3 linked regions of the Homo sapiens genome follow. The protein of the gene in region 1 interacts with the protein of each later gene in a biochemical or structural test. Each region holds a gene or a part of one and is shown on either strand. Other genes may lie near its edges. The genes, in order: MAP3K4, RAC1 and MAPK8.

Region 1 (3,655 bases):
AAATAAGTTTGTAGGTCTCACAGTTTTGAGAGCTAACATGGTGGGTTCAAAATAACCCCAAGCATGTAGATTCCAAAGAAACATGAGAAGGCAGGAATGAAGATGGTGAACTAGAGAGCGGTTCCAGTTCAGGGGGCCATGGGCAGTGGTGTGCTGGAGCTGCTTCTCCCGGCTTGAGAGAGCTGATCATGCACATCTCTTCCCATTTCATTGCTCAGGGACATCATACTGCTGCCTTGAAATTAGCTATGATGGGAGTATTTACACCACAGAAATCGGCATGCATTACATAAGATAGTAATTTAGGGTCACCCAGTTGTTAAATATTTCCCAGATCACACTGTATAGATTTCTTTTTAGATTACGAGCCAGGAGTTAAGAACTTAACCTTAAACTCCAAGAAATGATCATAATGAAATGTTAAGAAAATTGAGCTTCCTATTATTTGAAGGTTATTAAATGTGCCCTGCTTACATTGAAAGGATATGAATATTTTCTACAAAACTGTCAGGAGCAGGCTTCTGAATGTTTTGACTACATCTTCAATAATAGTTTGTTCCCATTTAAAAAATCCTCAGTCTTTATTTATTACTGTGATTTGGAATTTGCTTCATCTTTATTGTTAAATCCCTCTTGCACCTCTGGAATATTCCCTAATGTGTTCTAACTGGACTTGAATCCACTTGGCAGGAGGTCTGTTATAGAGATCAGTCGAGCCCTGAAGGAGCTCTTCCATGAAGCCAGAGAAAGGGCTTCCAAAGCACTTGGATTTGCTAAAATGTTGAGAAAGGTGAGCTTGCAATCCTGATTAATTAGTACCTTTTTTCTTGTTTTTCTTTTATCTTATTTTTTTAATGCTAACCGTAAAGAAGTTTCTTTGTAACTGTGATCCTAGGACCTGGAAATAGCAGCAGAATTCAGGCTTTCAGCCCCAGTTAGAGACCTCCTGGATGTTCTGAAATCAAAACAGTATGTCAAGGTAAGTACTTCAAATGTTGTGATTGAAACATTTTGCCTTTCCTTCTTTATTCTAAAACAGGCAGACTTTTTCTTGAAGGTCCAGATAGTAAATATTACAGGCTCTGAAGGCTGTACCACAACCCCAGTTGTAAGACTGTCCTGTAATTCACCAGTGGAATAATGAAACAGTCTTTTTCATACTTGACTTACTAACTTGTCTTCAGAGTGTAGATAAATAATAAAAAGTTTACTCATGCTGTTTATTAATTTAGTTACACATATTTAAAATAATGTGTATAAGGAGATAATATTCATTTTAAATTATGGTTTTGTTTTTCACCCTTATATTTCCTGATGCAGTTCAAAGGTTTTACAGTGAATCTTTGACATCAAGATCCTGGTCATCACTAGAGCCACTTTTTGAGTCAGCAACTTTACTCCACTTTAAGTTGTTGGAGATTTAGCACAGTTAGAATCCGTATGTGATGTCATCACTGGACATTTTATCCCAAGCCCACAGTTGTATCCCGCTCCCATACTGAGAGTGGGAGGGATGACCTGCAGCGTGCCACCACATGTGTACCCTTTGAGAAACTGATCTCAAGGAGCCTTCTTGTGATGAACCCCTGGCTCCCTGCCCTGGAATAATTAGAGAATCTGTATTAACAATTTTTGCCTTTTTCCCAAGCCAGGTGACTTTTTGTAAGCATCACAAACTAGCAGTGGTTGAGGTTCTTTCAGGCTGCCTTGCCTCCCCGTCGAGTATTTTCTTTGTTGTTGAAAATAAAGCAGTGAGGAGGATGTCCAATAATCGGGGAGACTCTGTAAGGCCTCTCCTCCAGTGCGTTCACAGACTCTCCTCCTCCTGCCTCCTTCAGTCACACTGAAGCCGGCTACCTGCAGTTCCCTCACTGCTCCAATTCATGCCCTTCCCACTTTCCCTTTCCCAAACCTGCCTCTCCTTTCCTAGGTTTGTTTTAAATAACCTATTTCTCTAATGTACAGTGTTCCTTAAGATTTTGGATTATGTCTTTTGCAGGTGCAAATTCCTGGGTTAGAAAACTTGCAAATGTTTGTTCCAGACACTCTTGCTGAGGAGAAGAGTATTATTTTGCAGTTACTCAATGCAGCTGCAGGAAAGGACTGTTCAAAAGATTCAGATGACGTACTCATCGATGCCTATCTGCTTCTGACCAAGCACGGTGATCGAGCCCGTGATTCAGAGGACAGCTGGGGCACCTGGGAGGCACAGCCTGTCAAAGTCGTGCCTCAGGTGGAGACTGTTGACACCCTGAGAAGCATGCAGGTACAGCTCATCTCCATCTTTGCAGCAGTGTTACTTCAAGGACTTTTAGTAAGAATGAACTGTTAGCTGCTCATGAATGAGGGGTTTGACTACCCTAGTAATCACAAGTATATACTTCCCAAAAATATGCCTCAATGTGTTAATAGGTCATTTTGCAGCATAATTTGTACAATATATCATTCTGTTAAGTTAAATTATACTGGAATACTTGAAATAAACCATCTATCTGGTTTATATCTTTTCTTAGTTCAGTCATGTAGTTAGATCTGTGGAGCTATGATCTAAAAGGAGTTATGTCACTAATATAATTTGTAGTTCTAGAAATCCCAGTTCTCCAAGTACTCAGGTTTACTGGTTATTTAATTTTAATTTTTTGTAGTGAAGGCTATCCCCTCCCTACCTAACAGGGACCTCGTGACAGTTTCTATAACTCATTAGTTATAAACTATGAGAAGCTTTCTCATTTATCTGTGTTCAGCTTAGGAACAGTCATGGTGAGTGTTCATATGCACCTTGAGCTCAGCCTCACCAGAACTGAGTATACACTGGCCTGCTGTATCCCTCACCCCAACAACTCTGCTTTTATATTCCGTCTCAGTGAATGGTTCCGCGTTCACTCACATGTTTAAACCAGAAGTGTGACAGCTAATATAAATTCAGCCTCCCATCTTTCCAGTTAATACCTTGCCCTGGAAAGCCAGAAGCATTTCCAGTAAATGATCCTTTCCCTGCATCCCCAGAGCAGCTGCTGTAGTCAGCACTTTACCATCCCTCTCCTGAACTATTGCAGTTTCTGACTTTGAGTTTCCCTGCTTCAAACCTCACCTTCTGTCTCTCCAATTCTGTGTTTGTTTTTGTGCTTCTAGAATGATCATTATAATACATCTGATTGCATCACAGATCTACTTAAAATACTGCAAAGATTCTTCATCTCTTAAGAACAAAAGTAATAAAGTCTTGATTTCTTAATGTTTTATATAAGGCCCCTCATCTTATTTCTGTCTTATTCCTACATTTTCCTTCTTCATATGCTGCTCCAATACACACACACATGCACACATACACACACACACTCACACACACTCTGCACTGGCAGTACTGAACTACTTGAAGTTCTAGGATATCTCAAAGATGTCATGCCTGCAGTCCCAAAGGGTTCTTCTCCGTGGTGCTGAATATCCCAGCTGTCAATGCCCACTGAAGCGTGTTGCTGTGTAGGAGAAGCTTTGCTTAAAAATGACTTTCTGATTAGATGGTTGTTGGCCTGGTATCCCTGAGATTGGCATTGTTTTTGGACTGGTGTTGAACTAGAATAACAACTAGTAACTGGGTTGGTTTTTATGTCCTGTGCTTGATTTTCCTCCCAGGTGGATAATCTTTTACTAGTTG
Region 2 (3,125 bases), on another chromosome or scaffold:
TTGCCCCCCCTCAGGATCTCCCTGACCTCTGTCTTCACCATCGTTGAACTTAACGCCTGCTTTTGACCAGGTAGCGTGGAGTGTTTCAGTGGCATTTGTCATCGAAGATATGTTAGAATCTATTGTATGCTTTTGGATCTCTCCGGAGGGTTAAGACAAAATTCTAATAAAGAATCGATAAGAGGTTATATTGATTTTTGTTGTCCTCAGTCTGTACTAAACTCAAACCAAGTTCTCATGCATTACTAGGTTGGAGAAACGTACGGTAAGGATATAACCTCCCGGGGCAAAGACAAGCCGATTGCCGTATGTAAAACTTTCAGTCCACTTCAGTTTCAAGCTTTCTCTGTTCTCTCATTTCACTTCGTTTTCCTAGGATTTTTTATTAAGCCTCAAGCTCCTTGAGTGTTTTATATTTAATTCACTCAAGGTTGGGGTTTTGCTTGATGAAATAAACTTCATTAGAGTGTGATAGTTTACCCACCGGCTTGAATTAAAGCAGTTTGTGAACTGTGATCTTCTCCTCCCAAGTGAAAGGAGGGGACAGTGAGAGGGCCCCTCTCCTGGCTGGTTGGAGATGCAGATATGGAGACTCCTCCCGGAAGCCCACCTGGCTGTGAGCCGAGCCGGAGCAGGACTAACCTTGTTGCCGGGGCCTTCTTTCTCCGCTTGGGTGTCCCGTGTGGTGGGGCTGTCTGGGCGTGGCTGTGCAGTGCTGCTGAGCTAACCCCACCGTGCTTGAGATGGTGTGCTGGGTGCCGCGGTGATTCTTGGACGAGCTTGTGCATGCGCCAGCATTCTTCAAATGCCAGTTATAAAAAGCTGTTGTGTGGGATGTTTCTTTCCCTTTCAGGTACAAGGTATCAGCTGGAGGGTTGAAAGTGTAGCTTGGGAATTGTGTGCATTTCATAAAGTAGCATAATTGCCTTTTTCCAGGAGAATATTTTAGAAATCTAGCATTTTAGAATTCTTGGGCATTTTTAAATACAGGTGAATATTTGAATTTGGTTTGACACAAAATACAGAATGGATGAAGCATGCAGATGTTTGGCGTGTGCCCCGAAGCACCCTCTACTCTGTCCTCTGCACCCACCCTTTGCGCCTCTGCGTCAGCCACAGCTGCCCCGGGAGCGAGTTCTCCTGAGGCCCTGGCTGTGCTGACTCTAGGGCAGCGTGAGGGTGGTTGTCAGCTGTGAAGGTGCCACTTACACACTAAGTCCTCCTTCCTTGTGGAGGGAAGGGCTCAAGTAGCAAATATTGGAGCCCCCGCTTGGTGCTGGGAGCTGTGACAGGCAGCTCCTGAAGAAGCAGTTTAATTGGAACCAGTGACCATCTAAAACTGTTTGTACTCTAAACCAGATTTTACAGAAATATTGGAATCATACCTTTATACTTGATTTTTTCATTTTAGATAGTTAGGCGTAAAGGAAGCCTCCTGAGGGTCTGGTCTGATCCTCCTGATCCTTGAAGAGCTTCCAGCATCATTCTCCCTTCATGCTCCCCATTTTCATAAGTAACTGGTGGCTTGACATGCTGGGTTTGGTTTGGGAGCCCTCTGACAAACTGAAAGGGTGGATCAGGAAGCGTCTGACCACACCACTGGTAGACACGCTCTGCGTCCAACAAGTCCTTCCCAGCAACATGTAGAAAGCAAAGTGCATGCTTCATTCTAAGGTTGTTGTCTAAATGTTTCCCTGTGTTTCCTTTTTGTAGGATGTGTTCTTAATTTGCTTTTCCCTTGTGAGTCCTGCATCATTTGAAAATGTCCGTGCAAAGGTAGGTGGGGATTTAAAATGTGTATGTAAGTTATAGAATGATCCTCTCAGAAATAAATACTTTAAAATATCACTTAGCCTAGGAATTTTTAGTTATTTAAATTGGTTTTAGCAATTTGCTACTTAAGTACATGATTGGGTTTTTTTTTTTCTTTTGAGACGGAGGTCTCACTCTGTTGTGTCCAGGCTGGAGTTGTAGTGGTGACATCAGAGCTCACTGTAGCCTTGAACTCCTGGGCTCAAACAGTTCTCCTGCCCCAGCCTCCTGAGTTGCTGGGACCATAAATGTGCACCACCATGCGTGGCTAATCTTAAAAGAATTTTTGTATGGCTGGTTTTGTAGACCCTGGCTTGTCTCAAACTCCTGGGTTGAAGTGATCTTTCAGCTTCAGCCTCCCAAAGTGGTGGGATTATAGCTGTGAGCCACTGCATCTGGCCCATCAGCAGTTTATTTTATTTATTTATTTTTGAGAGAGTCTTTTTTTTTGTTTTTGTTTTTGTTTTTGAGATGGAGTTTCACTCTTGTTGCCCAGGCTGGAGTGCAGTGACGCAATCTTGGCTCACTGCAACTTCCGCCTCCTGGGTTCAAGTGATTCTCATGCCTCAGCCTCCCGAGTAACTGGGATTACAGGCATGCACCACCACGCCCGGCTAATTTTGTATTTTTAGTAGAAATGTGGTTTCTCCACGTCAGTCAGGCTGGTCTCGAACTCCCGACCTCAGGTGATCCGCGCGTCTCGGCCTCCCAAAGTGCTGGGATTACAGGCGTGGGCCACCGTGCCCGGCTGAGACAGAATCTTGCACTGTCATCCAAGCTGGAGTGCAGTGGCACAATCTTGGGTCACTGCAACCTCCCCCTCCCGGTTCAAGCAATTCTCCTGCCTCAGCCTCCTTAGTAGCTGGGATTACAGGTGCCCGCCAACACACCTGGCTAATTTTTGTACTTTTAGTAGAGACGGGGTTTCACCATGTTTGCCAGGCTGGTCTCGAACCCCTGGCCTCAAGTGATCCACCCGCCGCAGACTCCCAGAGTGCTGGGATTTCAGGTGTGAGCCACTATGCCCGGCCTAATACGTGGATTTTTAAAGCTTCAGGTTCTGGTTCAGAAGTTTCCTGGGTCTCATTAAAATAATGAGGCACTCAGAATTGGTCTAATAAAAATAACGACCATTTCTTTCTACTCCAGTCTCTTTCACAAACTTCTTAGTGAAAATGACAAGTGAGGCCCTTCAGTAGGGGCATTTTCAGTGGAGATAATAGCGGCAGACCTGAGACCTTGGGCTAGGTAGTTTATTCTCATTTCTGAACAGATGATGAATTTTCTCAGATGACCCTAAGAAATTGTTTTAC
Region 3 (3,655 bases), on another chromosome or scaffold:
TAAAAAATACAGACATAGGCCAGGCGCGGTGGCTCACGCCTGTAATCTGAGCACTTTGGGAGGCCGAGGCGGGCGGATCACCTGAGGTCAGGAGTTTGAGACCAGCTTGGCCAACATAGTGATACCCCGTCTATACTAAAAATACAAAAATTAGCTGGGCGTGGTAGCGTACGCCTGTAATCCCAGCTACTTGGGAGGTTGAGGCAGGAGAATCTCTTGAATCTAGGAGGCGGAGGTTGCAGTGAGCTGAGATCGTGCCACTACACTCCAGCCTGGGCGGCAGAGGTGTAGACTCTGTCTCAAAAAACAACAACAACAACAACACCCAGAAATAATCAAAGACATTAATATTTTTATAAAAGCATAACAAATACAAGTAGGGTGAATAAAGATTATAAAATCTTATGCTACGTCTCGTCAGGTTTTACCACCAAATACGTTTGTACTAAACTTATTTTAAAAACGTATTTTTCACAGCTTTATGGATTTTGGCTTTGCCAATGAAGGATAGGTGTCATACATATATACAGTACTGTATAGCCTCTGCTCTGCTCCCTCCCTTTTTATTTAATGTAAGTTGTTGCATGCAATATGTATCACCTTTTGCTTTTTTGTTTTTTGCTTGTTGGTTTGTTTTTTGAGACGGAGTCTCACTCTTGTTGCCCAGGCTGGAGTGCAGTGGCACAATCTCAGCTCACTGCCACCTCTGCCTCCGAGGTTCAGGTGATTCTCCTGCCTCAGCCTCCTGAGTAGCTGGGATTACAGGTGATCCACCTGCCTTGGCCTCCAAAGTGCTGGGATTACGGGTGTGAGCCACCGCACGTGGCCTGCTTTTTGTTTTAATATAGCTGAGAGATTATTTTATATCAGTCATATCAGTATGTAAATGGCATGCTTTTTTAACATCTTTGTGGTATTCCATTTGTCTTACTCTGTTTGGGCTGCTATATCAAAATACCATAACTTGAGTGGTTTAAACAACAGAAATTTATTTCTCACAGTTCTGGAGGTCGGGAAGTTCAAGATTAGGCTACTTAGTCAATTTGGTTCCCTGGTGAGGGTCCTTTTCCTGGCTTTATAGGTGGCCGGCTTCTGGATGTATCCTCACATGGCCCCTAAGAGCTCTAGTCTGTTCCTCATCCTATCATGGGGGCTCCACCCTCATGACCTAATATAGTCATGAGAGGCTTAGTTAACTCCTAAAGGTCTCTCCTCCAGATACTATCAAGTTAGAGGGTAGGCCTTCAACATATGAATTTGGAGGGACACAGACAGTCCATAACATCATTATACTGGTATACCATTTAACTCCTTTCTGATGCATATTTAGGTAGTTTTCAGACTTTTGCTATCAAAAGCCATGGTGCAGTGGATTACCTTGTGCATACGTCGTGTTGCACTTAAATGCATAGGATAAATTTCCAGAGGTAGAGTTCCTAGGCCAGCGTATGTGCATTTGTAATTTTATGTATTGCTGAAGTGTAGCCTGTAGAGGTTGTCCAACTTCCATTCCACCAGCACTGTGTAAGGATGCCTGCTTCTTATTACCCTTAGACGTCTTTCATCTTTTAAGGGCTGTTTGTGTTTTCTTTCTTTTGAACTGTCCTTGTCTTTGCATGTTTTTCTATTGCTTTGTTGCTCATTTTCCTAGATTTGTAGGATTAATTTTACAAATTGGCTCCATGCTATTTTTTGGAAATGTTTTTCCCCAATTTGCTGTTTTCCATTCTATGGTAGGCTATTATGTATGGTTCCAACTTTATTTTCTTCACCAGATATCCATCCATTTGTCCCTACACCATTTATTAAATAATCCATCTTTGTCTTAACTGATTTAAAATGCCACCTTTACCATTTACAAAATTTCCACGTGTATTTGGTACCATTGTTTCCATTGACCCATCTGCCTGTTTGGGACCTGAGCCATCCTGTTTTTATTATTGTAGTTTATGCTGTGTTTTCTGCTAGGTCTAATTCCCTTTTATTTCTCTTCCTTTTCAGAAGTTTTTTTCTGGCTTCTATCTTGTTTATTTTATATGAACTTCTAAAAACAACCCATCTAGTCTAGTCTGTACCCCTCCTCTGCCAGTCTTTCTGTTGGAATCACTTTTTTTATTTTATTGTGGTAAAATTATGCACAGCTAGATGCACAAGCATTACAGTCCAATAAGTTTGCCTTTGTATACACTTGTGCAATCCCAGATCAAAATACAGAACACTTCCATCACCCAGAACCTTTTCTTACATCCTTTTCAAGTTACCTTGCTCCCCAGTGATTGGCTTCTATTAAATGGATTCAGTGTACTGTTAGGATTTCTTTGTATTTATAGAATAAGTGACAGCTTTATGATGTACCTTTATATCCAAGAATAGGAAAAACAACCTTTTCATTTGTTGAAGTCTCATTTTGAGTTCCTGATAGCATTTTTAAACATTAAAATTTTTTTTTGCTGTTTTATATATTTAAGTTTTTTTTTTTTTGCTGGAAATGGCATCTTTTTTTCCACTTTTATCTTCTATCTGGTTATATATAAGAAAGCTTTTTATTTTGTATATTAGTTAATATTTCATATATTAAATAATAAGCCCCCTGTAGAATATTTATTATTTCTAATAGTTTTGTAGTTGAATTTTTTATTTTTCTTATGTCATGCCAGCTTTTTTGTTTCCTTTGATTTTTACCTCCTCCCTCCCCCAACTTTTTATACTCTTATATTTTTTCTTATTGCATTTATAGTGGTGATTTTAGAAGATTATAGTTTTCCTCCATTATATGTAAAATGAGCCAAAATATCTGTTTATCTGTTGAGTATTTAAATGTTATGAATAATAATGAAATTAGGGAGGGATTATGGGAATACTTAAAGTAGTGTGAAGTTTTCTCTCTAAAGTTAATGTAACTTGAAATGAATTGTGGTTTTCAAAATGTTAAATGGACAAGTTGGGGATCACTTGATAGTGAATGTAGGATTAGCAGTTAACTGCCTTGTGTCTTATTTGATGATACAGTCATGCACCACATGGTGAGGTTTCGGTCCATTACAGACCACATATGTGACAGTGGTCCCATAAAATTATACCATATTTTTACTCTATTTTTTCTATGTTTAGATACACAAATACTTCCCATTGTGTTACAGTTGCCTGCAGTATTCAGTACAGTAACCTGCTGTACAGGTTCGTAGCCTAGGGTCAGTAGGCTACACCATATTATAGCTTAGGTATGTTGTACTATCTAGGTTGGTGTAAGTAGATTCCATGATGTTTGCACAGTGACGAAATTGCCTAATGATGCATTTCTCAGAAGGTATCCCCGTCCTTAAGCAAGGTGTGACTATGTGTATAGGCTGCTTTCTATGTGCTTAGCACCCAGAGGCAGCTCCCGGAAATATAATTTAGTCTGGTGTCAGAGAGCATGCAGTCAAAGTAGAGGTCAAGATATGAGAAGTATGAAGTGAATGAATGTAGACAGGAGGGTCTTAAGCTTGGAAAAATGCAAAAATCAAGTCAGGAAAGCACAGGAGTGAGAGGGTGCAAAGAGTGAGTTTGATTTGGCAACTGGATTGGGGCAGGTTGCTCATCCTTATAAAATTATATGGTAGTTAGGTACTTAGCTGAACTTCAGTAGAGATCTCATTGCTTAATGGGGATTAAA

The links.
Region 2: the proteins of MAP3K4 (region 1) and RAC1 form a complex in vitro, tested with the Homo sapiens proteins (one study listed by BioGRID).
Region 3: of the proteins of MAP3K4 (region 1) and MAPK8, one has a biochemical effect on the other in vitro, tested with the Homo sapiens proteins (one study listed by BioGRID).

Annotation. Positions count from the first base shown.
Region 1 is NC_000006.12:161,085,689-161,089,343, forward strand, and holds part of MAP3K4 (mitogen-activated protein kinase kinase kinase 4), read left to right. Parts: intron 1-690; coding exon 691-790; intron 791-895; coding exon 896-979; intron 980-1,999; coding exon 2,000-2,266; intron 2,267-3,633; coding exon 3,634-3,655. UniProt on the Homo sapiens protein: Component of a protein kinase signal transduction cascade. Activates the CSBP2, P38 and JNK MAPK pathways, but not the ERK pathway. Specifically phosphorylates and activates MAP2K4 and MAP2K6.
Region 2 is NC_000007.14:6,398,413-6,401,537, forward strand, and holds part of RAC1 (ras-related C3 botulinum toxin substrate 1), read left to right. Parts: intron 1-249; coding exon of another isoform or gene 250-306; intron 307-1,713; coding exon 1,714-1,776; intron 1,777-3,125. UniProt on the Homo sapiens protein: Plasma membrane-associated small GTPase which cycles between active GTP-bound and inactive GDP-bound states.
Region 3 is NC_000010.11:48,313,134-48,316,788, forward strand, and holds part of MAPK8 (mitogen-activated protein kinase 8), read left to right. Parts: intron 1-3,655. UniProt on the Homo sapiens protein: Serine/threonine-protein kinase involved in various processes such as cell proliferation, differentiation, migration, transformation and programmed cell death.